Homo sapiens: one gene and its partners. The protein of the gene in region 6 purifies or fractionates together with the protein of the main gene of each other region. This does not show direct contact. Each region holds a gene or a part of one and is shown on either strand. Other genes may lie near its edges.

Evidence for each region.
Region 1: the proteins of CALU (region 6) and C1QTNF1 purify together in Homo sapiens (co-immunoprecipitation; one large-scale study listed by IntAct). This does not show direct contact.
Region 2: the proteins of CALU (region 6) and ELFN1 fractionate together in Homo sapiens (co-fractionation; one large-scale study listed by BioGRID). This does not show direct contact.
Region 3: the proteins of CALU (region 6) and IPO11 fractionate together in Homo sapiens (co-fractionation; one large-scale study listed by BioGRID). This does not show direct contact.
Region 4: the proteins of CALU (region 6) and ARPC5L fractionate together in Homo sapiens (co-fractionation; one large-scale study listed by BioGRID). This does not show direct contact.
Region 5: the proteins of CALU (region 6) and TPRKB fractionate together in Homo sapiens (co-fractionation; one large-scale study listed by BioGRID). This does not show direct contact.
Region 7: the proteins of CALU (region 6) and TMEM165 fractionate together in Homo sapiens (co-fractionation; one large-scale study listed by BioGRID). This does not show direct contact.

Annotation. Positions count from the first base shown.
Region 1 is NC_000017.11:79,030,669-79,034,168, reverse strand, and holds part of C1QTNF1 (complement C1q tumor necrosis factor-related protein 1 isoform 1 precursor), read right to left. Parts: intron 1-3,500.
Region 2 is NC_000007.14:1,676,777-1,680,276, reverse strand, and holds part of ELFN1 (protein ELFN1 precursor), read right to left. Parts: intron 1-3,500. UniProt on the Homo sapiens protein: Postsynaptic protein that regulates circuit dynamics in the central nervous system by modulating the temporal dynamics of interneuron recruitment.
Region 3 is NC_000005.10:62,625,763-62,629,082, reverse strand, and holds the end of IPO11 (importin-11), read right to left. Parts: intron 1,930-3,320; coding exon 1,765-1,929; 3' UTR 501-1,764; downstream 1-500. UniProt on the Homo sapiens protein: Functions in nuclear protein import as nuclear transport receptor. Serves as receptor for nuclear localization signals (NLS) in cargo substrates.
Region 4 is NC_000009.12:124,872,130-124,875,181, reverse strand, and holds part of ARPC5L (actin-related protein 2/3 complex subunit 5-like protein), read right to left. Parts: exon of another isoform or gene 1,516-3,052; coding exon of another isoform or gene 1,496-1,515; exon of another isoform or gene 1,491-1,495; coding exon 1,418-1,490; intron 208-1,417; coding exon 31-207; intron 1-30. UniProt on the Homo sapiens protein: May function as component of the Arp2/3 complex which is involved in regulation of actin polymerization and together with an activating nucleation-promoting factor (NPF) mediates the formation of branched actin networks.
Region 5 is NC_000002.12:73,731,860-73,734,345, reverse strand, and holds part of TPRKB (EKC/KEOPS complex subunit TPRKB), read left to right. Parts: intron 1-1,641; exon of another isoform or gene 1,642-1,645; coding exon of another isoform or gene 1,646-1,762; intron 1,763-2,060; coding exon 2,061-2,183; intron 2,184-2,486. UniProt on the Homo sapiens protein: Component of the EKC/KEOPS complex that is required for the formation of a threonylcarbamoyl group on adenosine at position 37 (t(6)A37) in tRNAs that read codons beginning with adenine.
Region 6 is NC_000007.14:128,745,859-128,749,358, forward strand, and holds part of CALU (calumenin isoform a precursor), read left to right. Parts: intron 1-1,694; exon of another isoform or gene 1,695-2,496; coding exon of another isoform or gene 2,497-2,509; intron 2,510-2,714; coding exon of another isoform or gene 2,715-2,725; coding exon 2,726-2,946; intron 2,947-3,500. UniProt on the Homo sapiens protein: Involved in regulation of vitamin K-dependent carboxylation of multiple N-terminal glutamate residues. Seems to inhibit gamma-carboxylase GGCX. Binds 7 calcium ions with a low affinity.
Region 7 is NC_000004.12:55,416,457-55,419,956, reverse strand, and holds part of TMEM165 (putative divalent cation/proton antiporter TMEM165 precursor), read right to left. Parts: intron 2,886-3,500; coding exon 2,710-2,885; intron 2,155-2,709; coding exon 1,972-2,154; intron 1-1,971. UniProt on the Homo sapiens protein: Putative divalent cation:proton antiporter that exchanges calcium or manganese ions for protons across the Golgi membrane.

The DNA of each region.
Region 1 (3,500 bases), on a different chromosome or scaffold from region 6:
CTGGGAATTCTATGGCCTGGTGCCCCGTCGCACCCAGCCCTTTACAAGCAGCACAAACGTATTTGGTTGTCTGGGGCCTGGACAAGCCCCAGCATTTTCCAGGCAGCTCCTGAGGAAGCCTGGCATAAGACAGGGCTTTATCCCCAGCCTGGGGCTTCTAGGTCAGGAATATAATCAGCACAGCATCCCACTGGCCCTCCTCCTGCTGGCCCCGCCCCGACTGCTTGGCTACGATCACCCACGACCCTCGTGGCACCCAACACCCTTCTGCATTCCTCTTTCGTGCGCACTGTAAGCATCTGCCAATGTCGACTGCCCTCTTCTTCAGCCATGGGGTTTGGCCCACACTGTCTCCCAGTGTTTAGCCTTCCTGATCAACCCCCAAAGACAGGTGCTCTCCCAGGCTGTTCCTCAGCTCTCAGCTCCTCTTGCTCCTAATTCTACATTTATTTATTTATTTATTTAGGAGACAGGGTCTCCTGTCACCCAGGCTGGAGTGCAGTGGTACAGTCATGGCTCACTGCAGCTTCAAACCCTTGGACCCAAGTGATCCTCCCATCTCAGCCTCCCGGGTAGCTGGAACTACAAGCACATGCCACCACATCCAGCTAATTAAAAAAAAAAATTTTTTTTTTTTAGAGACAGGATCTCACTATGTTTCCCAGGCTGGTCTCAAGCAATCCTCCAGCCTTGGCCTCCCAAAGCGGGTAGGATTATCAGCGTGAAGCCACCGTGCCTGACCTCTTTCTGCCTGTCCTGGTCCACACCACATCTTCAGCTGACAATGCCCCATTCCATGTCCCCACCACTGACCTGGCTGCTGAGACCTGGGCTTGCAAATGTTTAAGTCAGTACAGTGGCTACGAGCCACATGGAGCTATGTCAGTTAAACAAAATGAAACATCCAGTTCTCGGCCAAGGAGCCACATTTTAAGTGCTCACGTGACTAGCAGCTGCCATACTAGACAGCACAGCTCTTAGCACCTTGCACCACAGCTGAAGGTTCTGCTGGGCAGCGCTGGTCTAGACCCACATATGCAATCATCTGCTGAACACCTCCTCTTTGCTCTGCGCTAAGACTTTTTTTTTTTTTTTTTTTTGAGACAGAGTTTTGCTCTTGTCACCCAGGCAGGAGTACAATGGTACAATCTTGGCTCGCTGCAACCTCCGCCTCCTGGGTTCAAGCAATTCTCCTGCCTCAGCCTCCAAAGTAGCTGGGATTACAGGTGCCCACCACCACGCCCAGCTAATTTTTGTATTTTTAGTAGAGATGGGGTTTTGCCATGTTTGTCAGGCTGGTCTCGAACTCCTAACCTCAAAGCGATCCACCCGCCTCGGCCTCCTAAAGTGCTGGGATTACAGGTGTGAGCCACCGCACCAGGCTGCTCTGCCCTAAGGCTTTTAAGCCCCCAATTAACTCATATCCTTCTCCCCCGTCCTTACCACATTAGCTTCTCCTCCTGTGGCTTGCAGCTTGGTGAAAGCTATGCATGCCATCACGCGGGGTCCCGGGCCAGAAGCCTGCAAGCCACTTGGATGCCACCTTCCTTGCACCCGCCACATCTCATCCATCGCCAGCCCCCTGCAGGTCTCCTCTCCTCTCCATCACTTCTTCCCCAGCCCTGGCTGGTTTTCTGCCTCCCATCTGTCTCCCACGCTGCTTCCAGAGGCAGCTCTGAAAAACGCAAATCTGAATGCCACCCCTGGCTCCAAGGGCTTCCTATGCCAGTAAAGGAGGGAGTAAGCCCTGAGCGTTTCCATCTGGCCCTTCCCCACCCCGCGTGAGTCCCTTTCAGTCCAGCTCCCTGGAGCTACTCAGTCCCTAACAGATCACACTTGAGGTCTCGTCCTCTGGCACCCGCTCTTTCCTCTGTCTGGATGCCTGTTTCTCCTCCACCTTCTCCATCCGTGTATTCTCCAGAGCTCAGCCTGAGGCCACCTCCTCCGGGAAGTTGCCCAGACCTGGGTGTGCTGTAGGTGCCCCTCCCCCAGCATCCGGACGAACCGGTCTACAGTCCTTGGTTTCCTCGTCCTGTCCCCAAGACTCCAAGCCCCTGGGAAATGGGAGCCCCATCTCATTTCTCAGGCATCACCAGCATCCGGTGTCTAACTCTCAACAGGGCTCCAATGCTCTCCTCACCTTCAATCAATCCCAAGTACAGAGCCATCGTCCAAAGATGACATGCCTCAGCCACAAGCCTGTCCAAATCTCTCTCTAATTCCAGCTGGGGACACAGAGATCCAAGGTACATCACTGTCACCAGAGTGCTGACTCCTGGTGTGGCCATGTAGCCATCTTCCCTAGAAACGCTCCTCTTATCTGCACTCAGAAAGTCTATTGCTTCAAAGAGATGAAACCACTGCCTCCATTCACCAAGGTTACAAACCACCTACATGTCCAGGAAGACAGTCTAATGAAATACATGGCTGGGTGCAGTGGCTCACGCCTGTAATCCCAGCACTTTGGGAGGCTGAGGCAGGCAGATCACCTGAGGTCAGGAGTTCAAGACCAGCCTGGCCGACATGGTGAAACTTTGTCTCTACTAAAAATACAAAATTTAGCCAGGCATGGCACATGCCTGTAATCCCAGCTACTCGGGAGGCTGAGGCAGGAGAATTGCTTGAACCTGGGAGGCGAGGATGCAGTGAGGTGAAATAGCACCACTGCACTCCAGCCTGGGTGACAGAGTGAAACTCCATCTCAAAAAAAGAAAACAAAAAATTTACAGTGCATCCATCCATATGATGGAAACTAGAAAAACAAGGTGGTTGATGAGAGTGGTGAAATCAGCAATAGGGAGGGATGGGGATTGTGGTAAACCAGTAAACGCGTTCTTTCTAAAGACATTTAAAGAAATAATATGGGCTGGGCACGGTGGCTCACGCCTGTAATCCCATCACTTTGGGAGGCCGAGGCAGGCAGATCACGAGGTCAGGAGATGGAGACCATCCTGGCTAACATGGTGAAACCCCGTCTCTACTAAAAATACAAAAAATTAGCCGGGCGTGGTGGCAGACACCTGTAGTCCCAGCTACTTGGGAGGCTGAGGCAGGAGAATGGCATGAACCTGTCAGGTGGAGCTTGCAGTGAGCCAAGATCATGCCACTGCACTCCAGCCTGGGCGACAGTGCAAGACTCCATCTCAAAAAAAAAAAAAAAGAAAAGAAAAGAAATAATATGGAGGGACTGGGGAGCAGAATCAGCCAGCAGCACCAGTTAGGCGTCTCTGTAAATAGGTGAATATTTACTGACATGGAAAGATGTTTGGGCCGGGCACAGTAGCTCACGCCTGTAATCCCAGCACTCTGGGAGGCCGAGGCAGGCGGATCGCTTGAGGTCAGGAGTTCAATATCATCCTGACCAACATGGTAAAACCCCGTCTCTACTAAAAAGTACAAAAATTAGCTGGGTGTGGTGGCGTGTGCCTAAAATCCCAGCTAGTCGGAAGGCTGAGGCAGGAGAATCGCTTGAACCCAGGAGATGGAGATTGCAGTGAGCT
Region 2 (3,500 bases), about 130 Mb from region 6:
ATTTGTTCCCCTACGTGATCTGCCTTGGGCACTCCTCCAAGGGGTGTTCCAGCACTGCCCTGGGCCCACGGACCGGGTCAGAATGAGCCAGAGTGCCCAAGGCAAGCCCAGGCTACTCCCAGGATAACACCTGTTTTGCTTTCGTATCCAGACCACGGAGCCCAGCATCGGAGAATGTCCACTGGGTAGGTGAATGAATGAATGAATCAGTGAATGAACACTTCTAATGCGTAACTCCCATGTCCCGACTTCATGGTCATGTTTAATGAACTGTGCACCTGCACACAGGAGCGCTCAGGGGCACACGCGCCCCCTTCTGCTCCCCGTTCCATCTCTGTCCCTGCCCTCTCCTTTCCTCGAGGATGGTGATCTGGGTGCCAGGGCCCTGTGGTGGACAGGACAAGGCAAAGGTGACCCTGCACAATGGGGCTTTCAGAGGACTGGGGACACCACGCCCGCAATGGCCAAGGACAGGGGCAGAGTCACAGGAGGGAGCCACTGTTGGAGTGTGGCCAGGGGGCAGGGGGAAGGGACCCTCATTCTGAGCACCATGGCATCCAGGCTGTGCCAACGCCCCACAAATGCCACCCCGCTTGGTGGGACTCACCCCAGCAGACAGGAGTTAGCAGCTCCAGTGCACAGGTGCGAACATGAGGCTTGCAGGAACCCTCGGTTCCCCTCCCCACATCCTCCCCGGGAGAGCTCGGTAGGGACGGGGCTGAGGCAGCAGCCTGGGCCTCAGTTTCCCCTCCTGCCTGAACCTCCAGGGAACGTTCCTGTGGGTTCCCTCAGCCAGCAACCTGCAGGGGACCCCAGAGCAGGCCCCGGGACTGTCCTCCTGGCCCCAGGCCCAGAGTTCCCTGCCCACGGCCCAGATGGTCAGGCCAGGCACCCCCAGGCTTGGGGAGGTCCCAGAGCCTCCTGCAGGGAGGGGGATGTGCAGCCGTGATAATGCCAGCACAATGGACCCAGGCCTGGGCTGTAGCTATGGCCCTCCCGCCCAGCCCTGGTCACCAGCTAGACCCTGGCAGGGTACAGAGCCCTGGCTGCTCTTTTGTCAAATGGGAGCCATGCGCAGTTGTGTGTGTGTGTGTGTGCGCGCGTACGTGTGTGCACGCGTGTGTGTGTGCGCGCACGCGTGTGTGTGTATGTGGGGGGTGGGCTCTAGCTGAGTAGGTGCCAACATCCCTGCAAGACGGGCATAATCATTAGTGTGTAACTCAGGGTCACGCAGCCCAGCGGAGGTGATGGGAGATGAGGGTCAGGGTCCCCAGGCCTCTCCTCTCCTCTGCCACCCAAGGCCAGTTCCTCGGGGTGAGCACTCCTGGGAGCACAGGCCAGCCCCTGACATCACCCACTCTGGCATCACCCGTGCTCCAAATCCCAGTTCACAGCGTGTCCACGCGATGCCCGCACCCCACACTCCCGATTTCGCTGCTGTGCCAAATATTCCCTCACTCGCTAAGCCGGGTAGTCACCAAGACTGTCGCAGAGATGGGGGATGCTCTGGCACCCACGTGGGCAGACAGAGGGCAAAGTGAGAGCCGAGGCTCAGGGTCCACACCCACGACCGCTGGGGCCAGGCAAGGGCAGCAGGGCTGAGGCTGGTGGTGGGTGCAGGAAGAGGACACCAGAGGAGGCTTGGGGGAAGTCTGGGCACCATGGGAGGTGCTGAGGCTGTTTACAGACCTTTCTGTAAAATGTGGGGTGGGGGCCCAAGGGTGTCCCAGACAGGCTATGCTGGGTTCTGGCACATGTGAGCCGTGAGCCTGGACCATGTTACTTCCCCACTCCATGCCTCGGCCTTCTGGTCTGTGAAATGGGCACACAGCACCTCCCTCCGGGCTGTGTGAAGATTCCCAGTGGCGCGGGCCTTACCCACAACTGACATGCAGGGCCGCAGGGTGGGGCGGGAGAGCTGCTCTGAGCCCAGGTATGGGGTGTGAGGCTCAGGTGCCCTGGGTGGTCGTGGCAGGATGGGAGCTGAAGTCCCATGTTGGCACAGGCTGCACTCCAGGACCCCATGGTGTGTGTGTGCGTGCACCTGTGCCTGTGCACCCCTGTGCATGCCTCCCCAGTGTGTGTGGGAGCACGGTGGCACACACACTGTGCATGGTGAGGGCACAGGCGCCCAGGGCTGGGAGCTGCCCATTCAGCTGAGTCCCCTCGGTCCCTGACTGGTGTGGATTCGGGTGCGGGAACACTGGATTTCTGGTGAGTTGTTTCTCTGAAAAGCTGTCTCTGGGGACTCACAGCCCTCAGATGTAGCATGCTCTTGCTCTGTGGGGACAATGTAATGAAGGAACAAAAATAAGCCCGGATGTCTGTCAGACAGCAAACACCTCAGGGGCCTGACTCTCTTCCTGACGTCCCTCCCTGCCTACCCCAAGGACAGGGGAGCCGGCCGCTCCCAGACCCACCAGGAACCCGCGGGAGCTCCACACGCTCCCTGCATCTCAGAGCCTCCATCCGCTCGACTGAATTTGCAAAAAAAAAGAAAAAGCAGACAACAAATTCATTTTACAGAACCTAACCCTCAGACGGAAGGAATTTCACATCAGAGCCACGATCATTCATGAACCCACATCGGCTGCCCACTGTGGTGTCCAAGAGGGGAAAGGGGTGGGGGGGCCAGGAGGGTGTGCACACACCTCTATTCACGCAGACACTAATCTACACACACGTGAGTTCATGCACGTGTGTGCACACTCCCATATTCAGACACGAATCTACATGCACACACCCGCGAACCTACACACACCCCTGCACAGTCCTCTGTTCACACAAGTGGTAATCTACACGCACACACGTGAACATGCGTGCCTGCTCCCATATTCACTTGGACACCCATCTGCACCCAGAGCCACACGCAAATGAAGATCTGAGAATCCCGTCTCCTGGAGGAAGCCGGGGTGCCGGATACCTGAGGAATGGGCCCTGAGCCCCACTTCTGTGGGCACCCTGAGGGGTTCTGTGCCAAGATGACCCCACTGTTTCATACCAATCCATTCTGGGGGGTTCATCTCCCCAAGAACACAGCTCTGAAATGCTAATGGCTGTCAAAGGGAAGCAGGACTTGCTTCGCACAACCTTCCTCTCCACAGGACGGCCTCCCTCATTTCCTAATGAATATAAATAGGAAAATGGGTTTTGCCTTACAGAATATTTTTCTCTATAGGAATGTAGCTCCAATTTCTAAGCACTGTCAAAACAGAAGTTACATCCTCTCTGTCTCTCCGCTGCCAGCGTCGGCACCCAGTACGGGCTACCCTCATGGCTTTCAGACGTCGGCAGTCCCCTGGGTGGCTCATTCCCTCGTGTGCCCTTAAAAACCCTTTCTCCGTCGACATCAGAGGGATGCTTTAAAGCCAGCCTTGTCTCTCAGCTGCTGCAAACTCCCCAGAGACTTCCCGAAGCAATCCGAGTACCAACCAACTCTTCCCAAGAGCTCCGACACAGGAGCAGCCCGGACCCTGGGGCCTCTCCCGCTCACCTCTCAG
Region 3 (3,320 bases), on a different chromosome or scaffold from region 6:
GAGCTATTTACCAAGCCTATTTAAACTTGTGAGTTTTAAAAATGAAGCAAACTCTTTCCCTGAGATAAGCTTTTTACTTCTTTTGCAAGGTAGCTATTTCAGTAATATTTGGTATGGCACTATAATGAAATCTGTCAGGAATTAGAAGGATGAGTACTTTACTATAACTGAAAAATGAGCATGTTTGAGAATTTCTGATAACACTAATGAGTTAGTGTTTCAAATGAAAATAATTAAGTCAACAAAAAGAAATTCTTCTTGGATCAGTCTTCAGGACTGAGTAATACTGATAAAGAAATATCACTTGAAAGGAGCTTTTTGTCTTTAAATGAAGATAAATTAAAAGGGTAACTAGGATTTGCCACCTGCAATACTGATACCTACTAGCACAGAATCAAAGCTAGAGTATAAAAGAAAATTCTCTATAAGTCACTGGGCAATTTTTAAGAACTCATTTTTTGGGGGGAGCAAGAAAAGTAGTCAGACAAATCAGTCCAAGGTGAGGTATCTTTGGAAAATTTAATTTGGACCATATTTTCTTCCTCTTTCTGAAAACATCAAATATCCCCATACAGTTTGGGTTCCACAGCTTACAAAGGGGCAGTGGGTTTCCCGCAGTTACATACTGTACCCAACTTTCTATAGAAAGATAAAACATTTTCCAACCTTGCTTTTGAGTATTTCCTAAAAAATGCTTTAAAGTTTCCTTACAATAAATGGCAAGTAAAACAAAGTAAGGCTTTTTTTTTCTCCTTTTCCCCTTTTTATGTACTGCATGTTCGAGGAATAAGGAAGGAAGACTAGTTCCATCAGAGTACTAGTAATCCTAGTACCCTGGGGATTACTGCTGGATCCTCCCAGGTATACCCCTATTATTGAGGCCCTGATGCACCCCTGCACTGAGGAACCTGAGAAGGGTAAGTACTAAACAGTCTGTCATAGCCACGTGGGACTGTCACAGCACAGGTGGGACTGGGAGTCGCCCAGTTCTTCTCGGTGCTCACAGGAGTAACAAAGGAACTAGGACTAAACCATAACCAGAGGTCTCCCACGTGGTACTACAGTACCACACGTTCACTTTTGTGGCCCTTACAAATGCACATTTATAGACCCAATGTATTTACTGGAAAAAAAAAGAAAAAAATGCCTTTACTAATTTCTGTATCAAATTATTAGAATGAAAATAAAAGCATTTGTCTGATAAAACACACTTTCTATGTTAGATGAAAATAACTCCCTTGCAAGATAAGCTTGGTAATGTGTATTTGTCACTATTTATATATTTTTGCTTAGTACACACATTTCTTTAATAGCATCATCTGAACAGCTTTGTCATTTTTCAAACCTGTAGTTTCATTAGCTTAAAAAAAGGATAAGGCAGCCAAATTTAATGAATTTTGGTTGCAGAAAAACATCTCAGGTATTAACTCTCATCTTCAAATATTAAGAGCACATAATTAAAAGATAAAGTTTCTTCTCTTAACAGGAAACTAAGCAGCTATTGTCATCAAATGTACTTTTACATGTACTTTTTAGTGAAGGGCCCCCTCATAAATATAAAATTAAATTCTTTTGAGGAATAGGTTTGTGATTTTAGTTATGCAGGATTTACATTTATCCTTTACATTTTGTAGTAAAAAATGTGTGGTCTTTGCTTATTTTCATGAAGTGATTTCTTCATCTCAGCAGGCTCTCACATACAAACGGCAGGCTGGGTTACTCAGCTTGTTTCTGAAAGGGGAGGCAGCCACATGTCATGTGCTCTTAGAATCCTTGCAAAAACTCCTGTAGCTGGGTGACAATCTCCGTATCCACTGTTTCCATGAGGGACTGGAAACCTTGTTCTCCTAGCATCTCCTGCTGTGCCTTGAGCTTCTCGTAGATGAACTGCTGCAGTGACACTGTATGAACAGGGTCCTTCAGGGCCAGCTGTGGGATACAGAGAGGAGCAAGACTGTCAAAAAAGCAAAACAAGTCTCTCCTACCTGCAATTTACAAAAGTTCTTTGTAATCTCTTCTACAGTAACAAAATTGCTTCTGCCTCTCTTCTCACACAGATTCTGTACTAATCTCATGGTGGAAAAATCTGTCAAAGAAAATTTCATTCAATTAGTCTTAACTTCAGTTCCCTAGCGCCCCCTGAACATGTTTTCTGATCAGGCATTTCTCAAGAGCTGGGGGACTCATTCATTTAAAGCATCAAAGCCTAGTAGAAAGCATTCTAAAAGAAACAGAACATGCTGAAGAACATTTAAATACAATTGTCCAGCATTCTCCTTAGGAAGATAGGGTAGGGTAGGCCACTGTGGCAACCCAGTGATGCCCTCAGGATCGAGAAAGGAGACAGTGTTTGCCCTACCCTGGATTGCAATACTATTTAAATTCCTGTATATGCTTCTGGCTGAAAAAAAAAAAAAAGGGACTCCTCGTCTCCCACTGGGATATTTGGAAAACAAAAGGAGTGTAATTTCATGAAAAATAACCCAGAAGTCCACTCCTTAAAGATAACAATGACAAAAGAAAATATTTTGGCTTCTTCTATCCCTGTGGTATGCACATACATACATATACATAAAACACACCTGGACCCAGGCTAAGTGCAATGTGTGATATACCCGATTGAATCCTGCAACCAAGAGTGTTACCGGAAAAACTGGTAAAATCTAAATAAAAGTCTGGAGTTTACTTAATAATAATGCACCGATGTTGGTTTCTTAATTTTGATAAATGTACCATGTATATTTGGAAAATGTAGGGCCAGGCTCGGTGGCTCATGCCTGTAATCCCAGCACTTTAGGAGGCTGAGGCAGGCAGATCACAAGGTCAGGAGTTCGAGACCAGCCTGGCCAATATGGTGAAACCCCGTCTCTACTGAAAATACAAAAATTAGCCTGGCGTGGTGGTGCACGCCTGTAGTCCCAGCTACTTGGGAGGCTGAGGCAGGAGAATCGCCTGAATCTGGGATGCGGAGGTTGCAGTGAGCTGAGATCGTGCCATTGCACTCCAGCCTGGGTGACAGAGCGAGACTCCGTCTCGAAAAAAAAAAGAAAAAGAAGAGGAAAGAAAAATGTAACATACAATGTTAACATTAGGAAAAACTGGGTGAGGGGCACATGGGAACTCTTTGTACTATTTTTGTTACTTTCCTGTAAACCTAAAAGTATTCCAAATTAAGAAGATTACTCTAAAAAATGGACTCAGCAATTAGAAAAGTATACCCCTCTGTGGCCATTTGGTATAAGGACAAACCACTCTACAACTGACATCTCATCTTATGTATTAGCTTATATAAGTGTCTAATAATAGAATTTCTAAGCAGC
Region 4 (3,052 bases), on a different chromosome or scaffold from region 6:
TCACTGGGGCGCGTGGCAGCGTTCACATACCTTTTCGTGCCACTGGAGTAACACTGCGCTGCTATTTTCTGTGGGCTTCTCAAAGCCTTTATAAATGTACTTCATTAACAAGTCAACGCCGTTTCTGTCCAGTGACTGCACAGCCTGCTCAATCTCACTGCTCTTGAAGTTTGTGAGCACTTTCAGCACCACGCCCTGGGCTCGCTCCTGCAGACGAAAAAGAGCAAGTGAGTCCCAGAGCTGCGAAGGCACCGCCATGCCATGCCCCACACCAAAGCAAGGACACAGATCACCAGAAACACTGCCCAGTTTCTAATTCGTCCAGGATGGTTAAAATAAGTGGGTTAGAACGTCTTTTGTGGATTTAAATTTCAAAGTATCTTTTATTTATGCCAACAAGTTACCCTACTTATTTTGGGGGAGTAAGTAGTTTACTAGGACAAGTATCAACTCTGAGAGAGAGAGAGAGAGAGAAGAGAAAAGAGGGAGAGAGGGAGGGAGGGGCAGGGTCTCGCTCTGTTGCCTGAGCTAGAGTGCAGTGGTGCAATCTCAGCTCACTGCAGCCTCTCCCAGGCTCAAGCAATCCTCCCACCTCAGTTAGGGCTACAGGCACATGCCACCATGCCCAGCTAATTATTTTTTTTATTTTTTAATACAGACAAAGTCTCGCTATGTTGCCCAGGCTGGTCTCAAACTCCTGAGCTCAAGCGATCCTCCTGCCTCCCAAAGTGCTGGGATTACAGGCATAAACCATGGCACCCAGCCCATCACTATTTTAGATGACACCAATAAGGCCTTATTATACTCCACAATGGTGGTGGACTATTAAAAAATAAAAATAAAACCAGGTTGACTCGGCTGCAGCGTCCCTCTTGTGTTCACACCCAGAAGGGTGGGGCCATTCCCCAGAACTCTGTGAAGGTGCAGCCACTGGTGACATCAAGATGCTGTCACAGCTGCCAGAATCCCAGCTGCAGGGAGACCCCTTTCTCTGAACCAAATTTTAGACTTGGTGATGCAGTAAGCACAATTTAGTTTTTAGAAGGTAGGAAAGCGTACGGGTACTTAAAATCCTCAGGCAGACAAAGCCTATTTAACAGTCTGTGGGAGCATAAGCACCACAGGTGAGCGAATTCATCCATTTTCCTCATCAGCCAGGGCCAGGCTGACTTCTCAGCCTACGAGGCCGTGAGCAGGAGTGAAGGCTTCTGTGGGGAGGTTCTCGTATATAAACGCTGACAGCGTTGATGTCAGAGAAGCCTCACCACCTAGGGAGCGCCAGGAGGCTTCCCTGGAAGCCCCGCCCAGTGCCAACTCACTCCCTCTGATGTGGATGAAAGCTCACACTCGCACTGGGCAGACACCCACAGCCCTGGTCCCAACAGCACCCAGCAGAGCCGCAGCGCCACCCCTTTACCTTCACAGCTTGATTCTTGGTGTTGACGGGAGAGTTCCGCAAGGCTGCATGGAATGCCCGAAGCATGTCCCCTGTGCATCACCACCAGTTAAGGATAGCTAGGCTCAAGCACATCCATGCCGTCATGAACAAGCTCACTTCAGAAACAGCTCAGGAACAGAGTCAGATGGGATCTCATCCATACCACCCACCTTCCACGGCTTCCAGGGGGGCAGAGACGGTTTACAGCCTGCACAGGGAGGCTGCAGGGCACCTCTGCCAACCATGCAAACCCTCCTTTCAACTCCCTCTCTACCTTCCACGTCAAAGCAACTGTCCTGGAGGGGTAACTTGATGTAAAATTGGATTGTGCTCACTTGCACCTGCTTGGTGCTGAGCACTGTATCTCCCCTACTGGATCCTCACAGCACCCGTACATGTGAACTGGAGGTCGTTCTCATCTTCTCATTCTAAAAAAGCGGAAAATGTAGGTACAAAGGGAGACCTCCTAACTCTTCATCAATGCTCTTCATCAATTAAACTATTAAGGAAATTAAGATGTGCTAGAACTTCTAAGATCTATCGGGATCAATGAGGTCCCAACTGTTACCTGGAAAGAGTTTATCAATCTAACAGAAGCTTTTGCCAACAATGAGCCAGTCTCCACCCTTACCCCCCAACCTCAGTTGCAATCCTGACAACACATTCTTTGCTGAGTTCTGAATACCCAGCATGCAAAAGAAAATTACAATCTGGGTTAGGTCCCCAAAGGTGACACCTATTTTAAACTGAATTACATCAGCCAACTTTCATTTCCTCGTATGAAACACTGGCTTCAGCCAAAAAGCTTCAAAAATAGAACAAGGAATGGCTTCTGCCCAATCGGGTCTCTACTCCTCTTCATGCAGTGATACCCACGTGCAGACAGGAAGGGCCTTCGGAGCAGAGCTGAATCTCCTGGCTTCCCCAGTATGAGATCCATCTTGAGTGAGCTGGGTCTGCGCCACCAGGCAAGCCACTCCCAGCGCTGGTTCCCCAGCTCCCTGCTTGGCTCTGATCCACCTTCCACACTCAAGAGGCAGTCCAGTCCCTCTGTCTTTCAGTTCTGGAGTTCCTTTTCCCCATCCAAACAAGGCCAGCCTGATATCAGCCACTGATAACCTCTACTTTGTAACTCCTTTTTTTTTTTGAGACGGAGTCTCGCTCTGTCGCCCAGGCTGGAGTGCAGTGGCGCAATATTGCCTCACTGCAAGCTCCGCCTCCCAGGTTCATGCCATTCTCCTGCCTCAGCCTCCTGAGTAGCTGGGACGACAGGCGCCCGCCAGCACGCCCAGCTAATTTTTTTTGTATTTTTAGTAGAGGCGGGGTTTCACTGTGTTAGCCAGGATGGTCTCGATCTCCTGACCTCGTGATCTGTCCGCCTCGGCCTCCCCAAAGTGCTGGGATTACAGGTGTGAGCCACCGCGCCCAGCCCTTGTAACTCTTTTCTAATGTGGTGTCCCCAAAGCAATAAGCAGGATCCCATAGGCTGAACAGAAAACATAGGCTCACTTGCTCTTCATGTAAACCTGGCACAACTAACAAATGACATCATTCAAATGATGGATGGGGAAGGGCAGGTATAAAACTAGTCCACGGGGGCAAAAAGCTACTGCT
Region 5 (2,486 bases), on a different chromosome or scaffold from region 6:
GGGTGGATCATCTGAGGTCAGGAGTTGAAGACCAGCCTGGCCAACATGGTGAAACCCTGTCTCAACTAAAAATACAAAAATTAGCTGGGCGTGGTGGCGGGCGCCTATAATCCCAGCTACTCGGGAGGCTGAGGCAGGAAAATCATTTGAACCCTGGAGGCAGAGGTTGCAGTGAGCCAAGATTGCGCCATTGCACTCCAGCCTGGGCGACGAGCAAAACTCTGTCTGGAAAAAAAAAATGGCCAGGCATGGTAGCTCACGCCTGTAATCCCAGCCCTTTGGGAGGCCGAGGCAGGCAGATCATGAGGTCAGGAGTTTGAGACCAGCCTGGCCAATATGGTGAAACCCTGTCTCTACTAAAAATACAAAAATTAGCTGAGCATGGTGGTGGGCACCTGTACTCAGGAGACTGAGGCAGGAGAATCGCTTGAGCCTGGGAGGCAGAGGTTGCAGTGAGCCGAGATTGTGCCACTGCACTCCAGCCTGGGCAACAGACCAAGAATCCGCCTCAAAAAAAAAAAAAAAAAAAAAGAATGAATGAGCCATACAGGGCATTTAAGTATACATTAATATTTGTGATGTTATAGGGTAGCCTAAAAATCTGTCACGGTTAGGGAAAAAATTCTTGTCCAAGTCAGATGCAGCCAACTTTGACTATAACAGTGAATAGAGGCAGAAGTGCCAGGTCCTGCCCTAGGAAATAGGAAAGGTTGTGGTCTGGGTCTAATATGGGAAATGCCTGGATCTCCAGCTTCTCATCTTTAAAATGGGGGTTCCTAACAAGACAGTCTGTAGAGGAGGAATAGTGTAGTGGTTAAGAGTACACACAGAGGCCAAGGTGGGTGGATTGCTTGAGGCCCGGAGTTTGAGACCAGCCTGGCCTACATAGTGAAACCGTGTCTCTACTAAAAATACAAAAAGTAGCTGGGTGTGGTGGTGTGTGCTGGTAGTCCCAGCTACTCGGGAGGCTGAGGCACAAGAATCATTTGAACCTGGGAGGCGGAGGTTACAGTGAATTGAGATTGAGCCACTGCATTCCAGCCTGGGCAATGGAGCGAGAGACTCTGTCTGTCTCCAAAAAAAAAAAAAAACAAAAAAACAGGGCACACGCAGTGCGATCATGTTACCGGGAATTAATCCCAGACCTACTACTTAGGCCTTTGAACAAGACATAACCAACCTTTATATAGTGCTTACTGCATTCCTAGCATTGTTCCAAGTGCTTTACGTATACTAACTTGCTTAATCTTCACAACAGCCTATGGAGTGAATACTGTTTCATCGGTCTCTAACAAATAAAATGCTAATGAACTTGCATAAGTTTCCTAGGTGATAGGTGACAGAGATGGGATTCAAACCCAGACATTCTTTGCCTCAATTTCCTCATCAATTACATACTACTACTACTGCTACTACTACTAATAATAGTGTCAATTTCATAGGGTAGTTTTGAGGATTAAAGAAAATATTACAAGTAAAATGTTTGCAATATGATCATGCCCATAATATTAGCCCTCAATTAATGTTATTTAAAAAAATTTTACTATTTGCATAAGTTCCTTGCAGCTTTAAAATTCTGTGATTTCCTGACTACCCAGGCCCTTGGGATAATAGTTGTTTTTTGTTTTTTTTTTTTTTGAGACAGTTTCACTCTTGTTGCCCAGGCTGGAGTGCAATGGCGCGATCTTGGCTCACGGCAACCTCTGCCTCCCGGGTTCAAGCAATTGTCCTGCCTCAGCCTCCTGAGTTGCTGGGATTACAGGTGCGTGCCACCACGCCTGACTAATTTTTGTATTTTTAGTAGAGAGGGTTTCGCCGTGTTGGCCAGGCTGGTCTTGAACCCTGACGTCAGGTGATCTACCCACCTTGGCCTCCCAAAGTGCTAGGATTACAGGTGTGAGCCACCGTGCCCAGCCGGGATAATAGTTTTGAAAATACAGACCGTAAGAATTGTGATGAAGTAAAACAGCTTGACACTGGAGTTAACCATGAGTTACCATGTGTTTTCAGGCACTGCAGATTCTCCATGTGTAATTAATTCTTTTTCCTTGCTTTGGTAGATTGTTGATCCATTTCAGATACTTGTGGCAGCAAACAAAGCAGTTCACCTCTACAAACTGGGAAAAATGAAGACAAGAACTCTATCTACTGAAATTATTTTCAACCTTTCCCCAAATAACAATGTAATGTGCACTTTCCTATTTCTGTTGACCGTGTCATAATAACATATGTGTTCCTCAGTGTTGGGTTGGAGGCTAAATTCCTGCAAGCCAGTGGTTAGTAATAAACCCAAATAATAGTGAAGAGAGCTCTGGACAGAGAGTTGAGGTTTAACCCTGCCTCTTACTAAGACAGTTTACATATGAGTAAACAAAAATTTAGCTAAATTAAGCGAGGTTAATTTTATCTGTTCTTACCATATAGGGTCAGGAAGACCCCTCAAGTATTTTTGCTTGAGAAGCTGACAGAAATCTAAATGATAAAAC
Region 6 (3,500 bases):
GCAGGATACAGTATTAAAGTTCACTTTCACACCAATCTTACCAGCCCACCCCATTCCTGTCTCTTCTCCCATGAACCTTGAGGTTACCACTGTTTACACATGGGTATTTGTCTTTGCACACCATTTATGTGCATGTTATATTTTATACAAATAAAAACAAGCTGGGGAGATTGTTTAATTTTGTTTTGCTTTTTATGTAAATGAGATCTTGACGTTGTTTTGAACCTTGCTTTTTTTGTTCACTTGACATATCTTGGTGAATTTTCCATTTCACTGCAGATAGATGCATCTCGTTCTTTTTTTTTTTTTACATTCTTTTTTTTGAGGAAGGGTCTCGCTCTGTCACTGAAGTGCAGTGGTGAGATCTCAGCTCACTGCAGCCTCTGCCTCCCGGGTTCCAGTACTTCTCGTGCCTCAGCCTCCTGAGTAGCTGGGACTACAGGCGTGTGCCACCACACCCAGCTAAGTTTTGTATTTTTAGTAGAGACAGGGTTTCACCGTATTTCCCAGGGTGGTCTCGAACTCCTGACCTCAAGTGATCCTCCCGCCTCGGCCTCCCAAAGTGCTGGGATTACAGGCATGAGCCACCATGCCTGGCTGCTTTTTTTATTTTTTTTGAGATAGGATCTCTGTCACCCACGCTGGAGTGCAGTGGTACAATCTCAGCTAACTGCAACCTCCACCTGGTGGGTTCAAGCTATCCTCCCACCTCAGCCTCCTGAGTAGCTGAGACTACAGGTGTATGCCACCATGCCCAGCTAATTTTTGTATTTTTAGTAGAGACAGTGTTTCGCTATCACCCAGGCTTGTCTTAAACTCCCGGATGCAAGTGATCCGCCTGCATTAGCCTCCCAAAGTCTTGGGATTACAGGCGTGAACCACCACCCCCGGCCTCATGTCATTCTTTTTTTTTTTTTTTTTTTTTTTTGAGACGGAGTCTCACTCTGTAGCCCAGGCTGGAGTGTAGAGGTGCTATCTCGGCTCACTGCAAGCTCTGCCTCCTGGGTTCACGCCATTCTCCTGCCACAGCCTCCCAAGTAGCTGGGACTACAGGCACCCACCACCACGCCCGGCTAATTTTTTGTATTTGTAGTAGAGACGGGGTTTTACCGTGTTAGCCAGGATGATCTCGATCTCCTGACCTTGTGATCCACCCGCCTCGGCCTCCCAGTGTGCTGGGATTACAAGCATGAGCCACTGCGCCCGGCCCATTCTTTTTAACCTTTGTGTATTTTTCCATAATCGAGATTTAATATATTTTACCAATTCTCTGTTTTTATTTGTTTTCCGATTTTTTAATCATTGTGAACTGTCATCATTGAACATCTTAATACAAGTATCTTTGTCTGTAAATGTGGGTATTTTGATGGGATTGAATGAAACAATGTTGAGAAACATAGCCAAGTTCTAACATTGATAGGAATAGAGTAATAAGTACCATCTTCTACCCATTTCTCTATGGGTTTCATGGTCTTGCTTTCACATTGCTTCTTCTGATGGATTTTCCTAAGTCTTAACCTTCACGTCATCAGTAACAGTACCTTATTTGAGACTGGGGCACTTGGGAATGACTGCCCCCCAACCCCCGCCCCCATTATCTCCTTAGGTACTTTTCTGTTTGTCTTACTGTGTTGTCGTATTTACTCTAGAACACTTTCCACTCTCTACTGATATGTCCTCCTCTGCCATTTCAGGACCTCCCACCCTCCCCCACTGAGCTGCCTTCCCAGTGATGAAAGAAAAAATGTAAAAGCCTGAAAACCCTTCTTCTTGATTTTTAATTTTTTTTTTTCCCTCTAAGACCTTAACCACTCTGGATAGTATCACGGGGTATCAGTAGAGTGTGCTAAACAGATGTGTACTCTGCAGCTTCTTTGCAGGTTTTTTGTCACATTTTTCAGTCAAGTGTTCCAGCTTTGTGCTTGTTCATTAGAGTCACCTGTGACTACAGAGATTCTGAAAGTTTGAATCAGGGCCTGGGAATCTGTACTTTGAACAGTACTACAGGTGGTATTTATGCCTAGGCAAGTATGGGAAACAACTGTGCAGAAGGATAAAGACGTTCTTATCTATGACTAGACCATCTGAATGATTTGGCCTTTGAAGGTGACTCAAGGTTGAGCCTGGATGTTGGAGACTTGGTGCTATAGACCAAGGAAGCTGCCAAGTATTTCGCTGGTTCCTAATCTCATGAACATCAGAATCACCTGAAAAACATTTAAAGCTACGAATGTCTGAATTCAGCTTCAGAGACTCTAAATCAATAGGAGAAACTTAAAGCTTCCTAGATGATTCTAATAACCAGCCATGTTTGAAGACCAGACCACCAATGCGTACAAGAAGTAAAGGATTTGGAGTCAACATTTAAACCTTGGTTCTTTCACTTTTAATTCTTATGAACTTGGGCAAAAGGATTAAAATTCTACTTTGGTATCTTTTGAAAGAAAACAGAAAGTGGACATTTTAACTATAAGTTTCTTATCAGCCTACAATCAGATGAAGGAAACTGGTAAAAATTTCTCACTGTAATAATTGAAGAGTCTGATATTCCACCATACTTATTTTATGGATGAAGTAATATTTGGGATAATATAAAAGACTTGCATAGATATGTATATCAAATTAATAGTTTAACTCGGATGTGAGCTTTTAATTTCTTATTTAGTTATTAAGCATACTGCCTCCTGAATTAACTGCTTTTCATTTTCTTCAAGATCTAATTATCATGGACCTGCGACAGTTTCTTATGTGCCTGTCCCTGTGCACAGCCTTTGCCTTGAGCAAACCCACAGAAAAGAAGGACCGTGTACATCATGAGCCTCAGCTCAGTGACAAGGTTCACAATGATGCTCAGAGTTTTGATTATGACCATGATGCCTTCTTGGGTGCTGAAGAAGCAAAGACCTTTGATCAGCTGACACCAGAAGAGAGCAAGGAAAGGCTTGGGTAAGGTACCACCTCTCAGGGGTCTAGTGTGGGTAATGACATTCTTTATAAAGGCTAATTCTTTTCTTTTCTGGCTCAGTTATGAGTAAAGTTATATTGAACTATTAATACATCTTCTGAAAGCTAACCATGGAATTACTACCTCTAAAATTTCATTAAATGCCTGATTTCATACATTTTTAATTGAATAACAGTTGGTGCCTCATTCTACAAAGCATCATTTTTGCATAAAAGTACCAAGTACTGCAAGACCCAACTTGAACTGCATTATCTTGCTACCAGAAGAACATAGCATGGGGGGATTTCTCATCTCTTCTCATCTCTACTGCTTTTAATTTTTAAAAACTATCTGTGCCCTACTGACCTGGCACAAGCCAAGTCTTTGATGGGCTAATAAACGGCACATTGGATCCCTATAAAGTTTATGATTTCCCGAGGTGTCCTTCACCCTCTTTATTTTCATTCTCAGATATTTGTTTAATTAAAAAACAAAAATCAAACCAACTTTGTCTTTTAGAAAATTGTAACTTAATGTCTGAGTATGAGTTACTGTT
Region 7 (3,500 bases), on a different chromosome or scaffold from region 6:
GCCCAGCTAATTAAAGTGATATTTTTAAAGAAAGTTTGTTTTATGAGAATCAAATGAAAATCAGAGTTCCATTTTTTTTCCCCAAAATACAGCATTTTTGAGGCTTCCCTGACAAAATAGCCTTTCCCATCTATCTTAGTCCTGGCCTTCAACTGTCTTGTATTTTAAACCACAGCCTATAATTAAAGAACTTGTTCTTTTATGATAGTTCCAAGGAATTAGAAACAATTTTACTCTTATAAAAAGAGAATCTGATATAAACACAGATAAGAAATAGTATCAGTTAAGATGAAAAAGAGGTTGAAAAGTGGCAGCAGTATTCCATTCCACAACCGTCTCCACATGAAATCTTAATAAATCTGTGTGAACAATGACAGGCGCCTCATATAAAACCTTGCTATTCCCATCAAAAGAAAAATTAAAAAATAAAAAACCAATGGGCATGTTTTAAATAAGTGGCATTGAACAACTGTGAAGAAGGCCACAGCCAGCCAGCTTACTCCCTCACACAAGTCACCCGATCTCTCTGGGGGTCAGGTTCTTCATCTGAAGAGTAAAAGCTACAAGATGAGCTGAGGTCTCTAGCTTCCCACTCCAGAACTTAGGATTCTTGGGCTAAGACTTTTTGAACAAAAAGTTCCTACACAGAAACAAACAAGTCACCTAGGCCAGAGCAGTGACTCTCGCCTATAATCCCAGAAGGATTATTTGCGAGGCTGAGGCAGGAAGTTTCAGGCCAGGGGTTCAAAACTGGCTGGACAACATGGTGAGACCCCACCCCTACCAAAAAGTAAATAAATAAATTACCCATAATAGCAGTACGCAACGATAGATAAGCACTGAAATAAAAATAATGTTTTTATTTCCTTAAGTCTTTTTTGTTCTTTTTATATATTATTTATTTAATTTTTTGAGATAGCATCTCACTCTGCTGCCCAGGCTGGAGTGCAGTGGTGCAATCTAGGCTCACTGCAACCTCTGCCTCCCCGGTTCAATCAATTCTCCTGCCTCAGTCTCCTGAGTAGCTAAGATTACAGGCATGAGCCACCTTGCCCGGCTAATTTTTGTATTTTTAGTAGTAGGGGTTTCTCCATGCTGGTCAGGCTGGTCTCAAACTCCTGACCTCAGGTGATCCGCCCACCTTGGCCTCCTAAAGTGCTGGGATTACAGGCGTGAGGGACGGCACCCGGCCTTCTTTTTATATTTTAAAAGTAAACCTCCTTTTAAAATTTTTCCATGTCACTGAAATGATGTTGAAGAGTGAATATTCTAAGAGCTACACAGAGATTTGTAAACAGCTGAACCAATTTTCTGCTGGATTATTAGGCTGTTTCTAAATTTTTACTAAGTTACAATAATTATAAGTAGTCTGTGCAACAGTCAATTTCTTTAGTGTAACACATGAACGAAAAGCTATACACTTTTTTTTTTTTTTCAGACTGGGTCTCCCTGTCACCAAGGCTGGAGTGCAGTGGCGCGAACACAGCTCACTGGAGCCTCAACCTCCCAGGCTCAAGCAATCCTCCCACCTCAACCCTCCTGAGTAGCTGGGACTACAGGTGCATACCACCAAGCCCGGCTAGCTACACATTTTTAAGGCTTTAGGTATTAAACACCAAAATGGCCTTCAATAATATTATACTGATTTATATTCTCAACAACTATAAAAAAGAAAGTTCTATGATAAGAAAACCAAGCTAAGATGACAAGTACCACGGCATCATTTTGGCAAAACCAAAGGGAAAAGGATGAGTAAAAAGAGCCCAACTGAGCTTGGTTACAAGAATTTCACCTGCAGGTAGCAGGAACTGGGAGAAGGCCAATTTTAGAGAGCAGCTGAATTATCAGATGTAAAACAGTCTTGCATATGAAGGAATGCTGTGGCCCACTTCAGTGTGTCCAGTGTTTTCTGGAACAAAGTAATAATAATTACGTTTCATTTTAAACAGTCTCCTCTCAAATATCACTCACCTCTCTAGCTGCCAATACAATTGTAGTTAGTTGAGAGCGATCACCCCATTCTGCTAAGAATGTTAATGTAAGAGCTTGAACAAAAATGGGTGAAATAAAATGCAACCACTTTTTCTGAGGTACTGTTATGCTTGTACCCGTTTCAACATCTCCCGGTCCATTTAAAAGTTTGGTTCGTTGAAACTAAAATAAATAATAAACAAATGAAAGTAAGCACAGGAAGCAAATCAAAATAGCACACAAATCACTTGACTTTTCTAAGTGTTTAAATTCTATGAAATATGCTCCAAAAAAACTACATTTATGTGACCCCCAAACCTCCCCTCTGAACCACTGGTCTCACACAGCAACAAATGCTATAGTCTCAATTCTTCCGTTTCTCCTCAGCTGAACAAACCAAACAGTATTTACTGCTCTGCTCACTTACTATCCTAGACACCACGGGAGAAACAGGTAAAATTATAAAATACAGTTCCTGCTTTTCAGGAGCTTATAATCAACCTAATTAAGGAAACTGATTACCTGTGTTCAGTATTCATCTGTCAGCTTCCTTTCTCTACTACATTCACACCAACCCCAAGTCAGATCACAGACAGGTATAAGAACAGAACAAAGCAAAAGAAGCTATTTTTGTGTAGCCCCGCATATCACACAGATGGGGCCACTGAGAAACCTCTGTAGAGTGTTTATTCCTAGTTGAGTGCCTTTTTGGTCCAGATCAACAGTGCCATGGCTTACTTCTTCATCTTTCTTCTTTAATTCAGCTTGAACTTCTTCCAGTTCCTCTTGACCCTCATCAGGGCTCATCTTTAAGCCTTCCCGAAGCATTCTAATGCCAAAAATGGCAAATAATACAGTTGAAACATAGTATGTATAGACCCTGGGGATGACTGTGGTGGCATAGCCAAACAAAACTGGAAAAAATACAACAGTATGTTTGTTAATCGAGTGTGTATCACGACCAAGGGAACAGTTAACTTCGGAAATAATAATTTATCACTGTTAAAAGAAAAATGGTTCACATTAGAAGCTAATCTAGTATGTAATAACCTCAAGTATTTCCAGATCTTTCTCTCCACCAATAATAAACCATTAGGTCTAGCCCAGGCCTAACACAGCTTACTCAGAAGCCAATGGTCCAGTTGAAGATGGCACATCTTCCTGAGAGATGTTAAGTAAGATATTGAACTCCTTTCCAGGCATGTTCAGTCAGAGGCTGGCTTGCCTTATGTTGTGCAAGGCACAGTACCTGGGGTAGAAGTTAGCTCTGAGGCCCTCTCAAGAGCTGAGATTTTATAACTGGGAAGCCATGCCACTTGCATAGTGGAATTTCTTCATCACAAATCTTTAAATCACAAACTTCTAGTGAAGAATCATGACAAAAGTCTCACATAGCAAGATTTAAACTCTGCTCCCTTGTAACTATTTAAAATAAGTACGTTTTATGAAAAAAATCTAAAAATTTCTTATTATATTAAAATAATGTTACAACAGGCTCAAACATTCAGTTCCACTCTTTCCCACTGATA